Linked DNA regions of Homo sapiens: region 1 is linked to region 2. Evidence: fine-mapped expression QTL. A gene starts in region 2. The other region holds a variant in brackets. All regions are shown on one strand. Distances are from middle to middle. Region 1 overlaps IARS2 (isoleucyl-tRNA synthetase 2, mitochondrial). Region 2 holds the start of RAB3GAP2 (RAB3 GTPase activating non-catalytic protein subunit 2).

Region 1 (4,398 bases), 130 kb before region 2:
AGGCTGCAGTGAGCTGTGATTGTGCCACTGCACTCCAGCCTGGTTGACAGAGTGAGACCCTGTCTTAAAAAAAAAAAATTGTGTTTTCTCATAATTGGAAATGTGTTTGCATTAGTGTACCCTTAAGTCAGAGGTGTACATACCAATTTTGCCCAAATCAAAAATAAATGAGGCATAAATGAAGGAACACTAATGAATTGTTGGTGACGTCCACTGTTTGCTGTTGTTAAAATGGTGTGATTTTGTTATTTACAATCTCATTCTTTCCTTAATTAATGTCCTTTCGTAGTTCTCAGAGTAAAATAGTATTTTCTGAGTGTAGTCAAATGTGTTATCCAGAAATGACATTTGGAAGATTCCCAGGAGTTCTTGCATATTGCCTGTTTTGTATTTGTCTCATTGAAACATATTTTTGAAAGGAGCATATTTTGCTTGTGATGACTTACATTTTCATTTGCCTGTCTCAGCTTCCAAATTTATTTTGGCTTTGTTCCCTAGATTACCGAATTATACAAACAATATGATTTTGGAAAAGTTGTTCGGCTGTTACGGACGTTTTATACCAGAGAGCTCTCTAACTTTTATTTCAGTATAATCAAAGATAGGTATGTATGACTAAATATTAAAATGCTTAACAATGGCCAGGTGTGGTGACTCACGCCTGTAATCCCAGCACTTTGGGAGGCCGAGGCGGGTGGATGACATGAGGCCAGGAGTTCGAGACCAGTATGGCAAAATACAAAAATTAGCCGGGCATGGTGGCACATGCCTGTAATCCGAGTCACTCAGGAGACTGAGGCACGAGAATCGCTTGAACTTGGGAGGCGGAGGTTGCAATGAGCAGAGATTGTGCTGCTGCACTCCAGCCTGGGTGACAGAGCAAGATCTCGTCTCAAAAAATAACAACAACAAAACCTCAACAAGTATTTTTTGAGTGTCTACTTGTGTTTGGCAACCGTCAGGGATACAGTGATGAGCAAGATGGGCAGTGTTGTGCAGTTATTAAGATTGGGTTCCGGGCCAGGCGTGGTGCCTCACGCCTGTAATCCCAGCACTTTGGGAGGCCGAGGCGGGCGGATCACGAGGTCAGGAGATCGAGACCATCCTGGCTAACACAGTGAAACCCCGTCTCTACTAAAAATACAAAAAATTAGCTGGGCGTGGTGGCGGGTGCCTGTAGTTCCAGCTACTTGGGAGGCTGAGGCAGGAGAATGGCGTGAACCCGGGAGGCAGAGCTTGCAGTGAGCCGAGATCGTGACACTGCACTTCAGCCTGGGCGACAGAGCAAGACTCCGTCTCAAAAAAAAAAAAAAAAAAAGATTGGGTTCCGGAGTCAAGTCTGAGTATAAAGGTTTGACCTCCCGCTTACTAGCTTTCTGATTTGGGGCAACTTATTCTGTAATCTGTTTCTTCATCTGTAAAATGGGTATAATAATACTTACCTCGTGATTGAGAAGGAAAAGCAATAATGTGCTTAAAGCTGTGCTTGATAAAGTGTTCAAAAAATCATCACTACTAATATCAGACGATGAACATAATGCTTGTTCTCAGGAGTTCTCAAATCCTGAGGGGAAGAGAGAGATATATATGTGCAATTATATGGTAACAGTGTATAATATTAGCAGTATCCTTGTAGAAGAGGCCTTGATGCCAAGTCTTCATCTGTTGCTCCAGTGTGCAGGTGACGGTCCTACCTTCATGGTAATGAGTCCAGTCTGAGGCGTTATCCTCAGCCTGTCAGCACCCCAAGGACCTTGCACATAGGGATTATAACTCCTACTCCTTCCCTTAAAACACTAATAACATTGGAGTGGGTGGGAGCCACATGTTAAATACCATCAACTAACTTATTCATAGTCCTTTAATACAGTAGTCTAGACTCTAGTTGTCATCCACCTGAGAAACAGAATGAGATAGC[G/A]TAGCCATGAGTGCTTTCAAGGAGGTGGGTACACCTGGACGGAGTAAAATTGTAGGAGAGTGTATTGTATTCTTTAAGTAGAAGATGATTAGAGCCATAGGATTAGCCACTAGGAATAAACTCAACCTGAGGCAGGTCCCATCTAGGTGACCATAATGTATAAAGTATTGTCAACTGCTGAATAAGTTGTTCTTGTTCAGGCTCTATTGTGAAAAGGAAAATGACCCCAAACGACGCTCTTGTCAGACTGCATTAGTTGAAATTTTGGATGTAATAGTTCGTTCTTTTGCTCCCATTCTTCCTCACCTGGCTGAAGAGGTGTTCCAGCACATACCTTATATTAAAGGTAAGGAATACTTCATTTATTCTCTTAATGAGAAATATCCCTGATCAAGGTGCAACTTCTACTTCTATCTGCTTCATAAAAGGGGCACTTATCCATTTACAGTGACTGCTGTGTGACACAGTGTGTCTTGGTCATGTATTTGTTTCTGCACCTATTTGTAGAGGAGTAGGGTAAATTTCAGAATTCTGTGCTTTCTGAAATGTATTAGCAGCTTGACAGTGTCGAGAAATCACCTTTTTTCTTAAATACCTTTATAACTGTTCTGAAATGGCTGGCATGGTGGCTCACACCTGTAATCCCAGCACTTTGGGAGGCCGAGGTGGGCAGATCACTTGAGGTCAGGAGTTCAAAATTAGCCAGGCCAACATGGCGAAACCCCATCTCTACTAAAAATATAAAAATTAGTGGGGCATGGTGGTGGCGGGTGCCTGTAGTCCCAGCTACTTGGGAGGCTAAGGCAGGAGAATTGCTTGAACTCGGGAGGTGGAAGTTGCAGTGAGCCAAGATCATGCCACTGTACTTCAGCCTGGGTGACAGAGCAAGACTGTCAAAAAAAATGTTCTGAAATATATTTTAGGTTGTATTAAAACAAAATATAGTGCTTTTAGTGAGTTTTATGTTAGTTGTTTTCTTCTGATTGTATTAAGTTTATAAAAATTAGAAACTATAGAAGTGTAGGAAGAGGGGGAAGTCACTTATAATGTTACTCCTGATAGCTGTTAATATTGGGATATTTCTATTTATTTTTTTCTAAGCATCCTTTTTTTCTTTGAGATCTTATTATATATTTTCTCTTTTGTTTAAATATAACAAAGATTTTCCAATGCTGATATAAATGTTTTGTAAATAATTAGGATGGATCCATAATATTTCATCACTTGATTACCATAAATAACAATTCTTATTTCCCATTAATGGTAACTATTTAATGGTTAGAGCTTCATATACAGTTTAGGATGTTTGTAAAGCAGTTTACTATTTTTGTTCTTCTGAAGAGCCCAAGAGTGTTTTCCGTACTGGGTGGATTAGTACTAGTTCTATCTGGAAAAAGCCCGGGTTGGAAGAAGCTGTGGAGAGTGCGTGTGCAATGCGAGACTCATTTCTTGGAAGCATCCCTGGCAAAAATGCAGCTGAGTACAAGGTTATCACTGTGATAGAACCTGGACTGCTTTTTGAGATAATAGAGGTATGCAGCAATATGTACCTTTTGAAATGGTGTTAGTATCATAGAGCTTTGCCTGAAATTTGCTTTTAAAATGTGTCTAAATTAATCAAATAACATTGGGTTATGTGTAACTTTACTATGCAATTATTCTATTATGTTCCTTTTCACATACTTTTTCACTTTTAAATATCTTTTAATAAATTAAGCAAAGTCATGCACATTTAAAAAAAAGTGTCTAAATTAAAAAAAAATTAATTTAGAAATTAGGGTTTCCGTCTTCTAATCCTGATATCATCACTGATTCTTTTGTTTCCTATTTCACCATATTCTTTTCCATGTCTTGTAAAACGTGTTCTGTGCATGTAACACATACATATTACTGTGTAGGGATAGGGAAGGAATAGATAAAGTTCTGTTTCAAACAAAAGGCCTCAGGACTATTTAGAAGACAGGGGACATATAAATTGATCGCGATCGTCTTTGAATGTATAAAAAATGGGAGTTTTGTATTAAGGGTCAGGTTTCCTGAGAATTTCATCCATCTGGACCAGATTCAAAACAAACCCAAAAAGAGTTTCCATTTTTATTTTGTGAAATCTGGAGAAAATTCATTTTCTCCAGCAAGTTACCACATATATTTCAAAGCATTTATCCTATTTTTATTTCTAGAAGGGCCATCAGAATTTTATTCTTGGGATTTTTAGGGGTTGATTGGCCAGATTGGCTTATAGCTTAACATAATGATGTGATTTTTCTCCAGTCTAAATGCTTAAGAAGAGAATTGGCAATGAATATAATTTTTTTTCCACGGGGCATTTTATTTGTAAATATATGTATTACATCCCTAGAAAAAGAATCCCAGGATTTTCCCTCCTGTGTGTTTTCATCTTGCTTCTTCATGGTCCATGATGCCAGCTGAGGTTGTCAGTACAATGAAACCAAACTGGCGGGATGGAAGCAGATTATTTT
Region 2 (4,398 bases):
ATTATTACAGGAAACCAAGAGCAAAAGCAGGAAGAATTGCTAGAAGAAGACACATATCATATCATAGCCCAGGTTGAGAAAAGATGGTGGCCTGGACCAGGAGAGTGGTAGAAGGATAAAGAAAATCTGTTCCTTTTTTCTACATTCCCTATCTACAATCCTGCATCTGCTATCCTTCACAGCCAAGCTCCTTGAAATAGTATATTTCACTTTTTAACCCCTTATCCTATAACTATGCTTTCTGCCTCCACTATCCTACTGAAACTGTCCTAAGGTCCAAGTTACCTCCACCTTCTCAAAACCAATAAGCATTTTTCTATCCTTTTCTTACCTGACCCCTGCTGCATTTGCAAAACTGCTGACCATTCCTCACCCTCATCAAGTTCTCGCCTTCCTCAGCTCCGAGGGCCTTACTCTCACATGATTTTCCTCTTTCTTTTACTCCTTCTCAGTCTTCTTCCCAGTAACCTCTACTTGACTTTTAAACACCAGTGCTCCTCTAAGCTTACAGCTTTAGTACTCAGTGCATTTCACAACATACATAATCCTTGAGACTGAACTGACACTTTTTGCTGTTAGCTCCCCAATTAACATCTCTGGCCCAGTACTCCCTACTGTTTAGACTATCTATATCTGGTGTTCAACCAGATGTCCTTACTTGGACATACCATAAACATTTAAAATGCAAAAGGTTGAAAATCTGTATCCTTCATTCTCTTATTACATATAGTTGCCCAAACCACAAGCCAAAGACTTCCTAAACTCCCCCTCACTTACTAGTTACAATGCCCATCACCAGACCTTCACAAGGTCCTGCAGATTCTAACTCCTTAACGTCTTTCTAATCTAGTCCTTCATCTTCATCCTACTAAGGTTCTTAATTCAAGCTCACATAATTTCTTGCTTGGATTACTGGAAGAGCTTCCCAATCCATTTCCCTTCTTCCAATCTCTCCTCCACTTTGCTACCAGAGCACATTACAGGTCTTCAACAAATGTTGTTGATTACATTAAGTACAAATCTGACAATGTCATTTCTCTACTTAAACTTTCAGAGAAACGCCACAATTTTCACAAGGCCTCTCATGGTCTAGCTCCTTATTACTACTACTGCCTCATTGCCCCAACTCTTCCTCTCCCATCCTCCTCTCCAGCCATTCAGCTTTTCTTAGTTCTCTAAATACCATGCCATTTCAGGCCTCCCTTCCTCTGCACATGCTATTACTGCTCCTTTACTCCTCTAACTAGTACTTCAAAGGTAGGCTTAAGTATCACCACTTCAAGAAAATGCCTCATGTATATCTCAGTCACACTGAATGGAAGTTAATGATTTGTCTGTAAACCAGAAGTTCCTACAGCAGGGTCCACCAACCTTATTTGGTTTGTAGCACCAATGACTGGCACAAAGTATGCAATCATTCACAGATGGGTTCGATTTGATATCTTCTAAATTTTCTAAAAAAGGGAGAGGAGCTTAGTGGGCTTTATATCACCATTCCGGTATAGCACAAAGTGAGAGCGCTGTACTACAAAGCCAAATGTGCTTCAGGTTGGAAATGCAAAAATAAAATAAAATAAAATAAAATAAAATAAAACACAAGGCACACCCTTTCAAAATGAAATGTACGAAATTCTGAAAGCCTATATAGTATCTAATAAACCAGCCTTGGAACTTTATACTACTTGGGGAAAGGCTTATTAAACACTTTGATGATAAAAATAGGTGGAAGGCTTCAATAAAGCAAATTAACCTTTCTTGGCTATGTCACTGTAATTTTAGTTCCTAATGTAGATTCTCGTTCACTTCCTGACAGGTTATTTTCCTTCTTTGAGAGAGTCTTACCTCAAGAGTCACTCATTTGTCAGCCATTTGTTCTCAAAATCTGAATGGGGGAAATGCAGATGAAAGAAGGGAGAGTGTGGGGGGATGATCAACACTTTCGGAATGGGAGGTAGCAGAAGGCCACAGTCTCCGGGATGGAAGAGAGTGGGAGCTGGGGCAATACCAGAGTGGAGCGCTGACATGTGGCAAGGAACGGGGAGGATGCGATCACGGAGCAGGCAACATGAAACAGGGAACGACCCCAGGCTGAAGATGGGAGACGGAGAAGATACTCAGAGAGAAAGCTAGGAATGTGTGGGGGTGGGGGGAGGGAGGGAGAAAGCGGTGATAGGCAGAGGCGAGAGGAAACAAGACGCAGTTTTTAGCCAGGGGTCAGAGGGCCTAAGGAGAAAAGCTGGGTCGAGAGGAAGACAACACAAATGGGGCTTCAGGACGAGGTGGGCAGGGTGTCATCCCGGAGCGGAGGGGAGGCACGGGGAGAACTGGGGGTCCAGAGGGCAGAGGCAGGAGGCGCAGAGCGAGTAGGAGACTCGAACCCGTGAGCAGAGGCCGCGGGTGACGAGGGAAGGAAGGGCGAGGCCAGAGAGGCACTTACTGGGGTCCCTCCGCAAGGCGCCGCTGAGGATCTCCTCCCGCAGGTGAGGAAAGAGGAAGTCCCGGGCGGCCTGGAGGTCCTGGAAGTAGCAGAACTGGACAATGGAGCAGGCCATGGCTCCAGGGAACCCCACTACGGCACTCACCTTACCTCACCACGCCCTGCCCCCTCCACCCCACTGCGGCCGCCACCGAGCCCCAATAGCTCTAGCCAAGCAGAAGGCGGAGAAACCAAACCGGAAGCTGTCACTGACACGGGTCCGCTGTCTCCGAGTACTGCGCAGGCGCAGGCTGGCCCAGGCGCCTAGGGCGCGGGGGCCCGGGTCACGTGACTACGGCGCCGCCGCTGCAGGTGGAGCCAAAGTCGACGTGGAGGCTTGGGGCAGATTTTTCAGTCCCAGTTGTGTGTCTACGCCGAGGCATGAACCCTTTCATTCATTCTGGCTTTTAGCCAGAGGTGTTCTAATTGGACTTGTCCGCGCAGCCCTTTGACTTATTCAGTCTTATTGGTCCCCTACTATTGGCACGATCCTGATGTTTCACAGAAACTAATTCGTTTTAAACTAGTGGCAGGCCAGTGGGGGACCGTATCCTGCAAGAGTCGGATTTTGAAAAGATTAATTGCTCTTCCGGAGATTAGCCCCGTCAAGGCTGGCTTTAAATGCTCCTACTATAGATTCCCATAGTACTACGCAAGCCCAATATAGTACGTGTTATAGTGTATTATACACTTTTGTTTTCATTATTCATTTGGTTTTTCATTCATGCATTCATCCATCCATTCAACAAATATTTGTTAGTCTTTTAAATGCCAGCCACGCAGGGTGCTGAGCATTAGAGAACAAAAGAGAAGAAGTACCTTTTCCCAGAAAGCTGGAATTCTAGTGACTGATACAGGCAGTAAGCAATTAATTACAGTATTTCCCTTTAATCCAAGGGGATATGTTTTAAGATCCCCAGTGGATGACTCAAACCATGGATAGTACTGAAACCTATGTATGTGTATTATGTTTTTACCTATACATATATATGATAAAGTTAAATTTATAAATTAGGCACAGTGAAAGATTAACAATAACTAATAATTAAATTGAATAATTATGTGGAAAATGAACCCATGGATAAAGGGGGGACTACTGTACTTAACTATTTAACTGAAATTGTGATCATGCTAGTAAGTGCTTCATAAATATTTGCTGAAGAAATAAATGGAATGCATACATAAAGTAAATAGAATAACTTGTTTCTTTGACAAAGCACTATTTTTGAAAGTACTTTACATTGTTCATTTGGATAGTCACAAATGCCATCTAAAAATAGTGTGTCTTATCCCATTTTTAAAATAAAGAAATTGAGCTGTCTCTGAGCAGACTTTAAGTTATTTTTCCAAAAAATAAAAACAAAAAAAATTATTTTAATGTGAGCACAAAGGCCTGTAGGCACTTACACATTTCCTAAAGGAAACCTAAAGAGGCCATCCACTTTGTATGAAAAAAGGGCACAGGAACAAATGAAAGGCAAGTGGATGGGGTCCAGAGCATTCATTTCTGTCAGGCCCGTGGACATACACACTTAGTCCTAATAATATAACAACTATAATTTAGTGCCCAGGTTCCTACTCCATTATTTCCTACTTCTAGAGTAGGATGATTTTCACAAAATAGGATAGGCAATTTCTATGTTATCAGGTTAACAGGAATCAGTTCTTCACCTATAAAAGGCAGTTGAATCAGATGTGCTGTAAGGTCCCTTTAAGCATCAGGGACCTATACTTCTGTAATCAAAGCTTTCAGAAAAAGCAAGCTGCCAGTGCTCCCTTCTTCCATCTGAAGAAATGCAGTGTTTCCTCAGATCATCACTAACTAGAATAATCCAGCCCTGATAAGATTATTCCCTAAAATCCAGCACCAATCCCAAACTAAACCAAAATTTAAATTTAGATTCTTAGTGTTACTGGACGAA

What was found. PIP is the estimated chance that this variant, and not a neighbour inherited with it, causes the effect.
Region 1: its variant is the best candidate, but not a certain one, in a credible set for the expression of RAB3GAP2 in sigmoid colon (GTEx, PIP 0.76).

What each region holds. Positions count from the first base shown.
Region 1 is chr1:220,139,685-220,144,082 of GRCh38, forward strand. It overlaps IARS2 (isoleucyl-tRNA synthetase 2, mitochondrial), which reads left to right. Exons shown (of 23, transcript NM_018060.4): 19 at 499-605; 20 at 2,119-2,264; 21 at 3,260-3,450. It also overlaps the pseudogene RPS15AP12. Among named protein-coding and RNA genes, the nearest start is that of MIR194-1, 24 kb to the left of the region's middle. The variant G/A (reference allele first, on the strand shown) is at 1,919.
Region 2 is chr1:220,269,786-220,274,183 of GRCh38, forward strand. It overlaps RAB3GAP2 (RAB3 GTPase activating non-catalytic protein subunit 2), which reads right to left and starts at 2,668. Exons shown (of 35, transcript NM_012414.4): 1 at 2,438-2,668. The coding sequence starts at 2,552. RefSeq lists an enhancer at 762-1,263.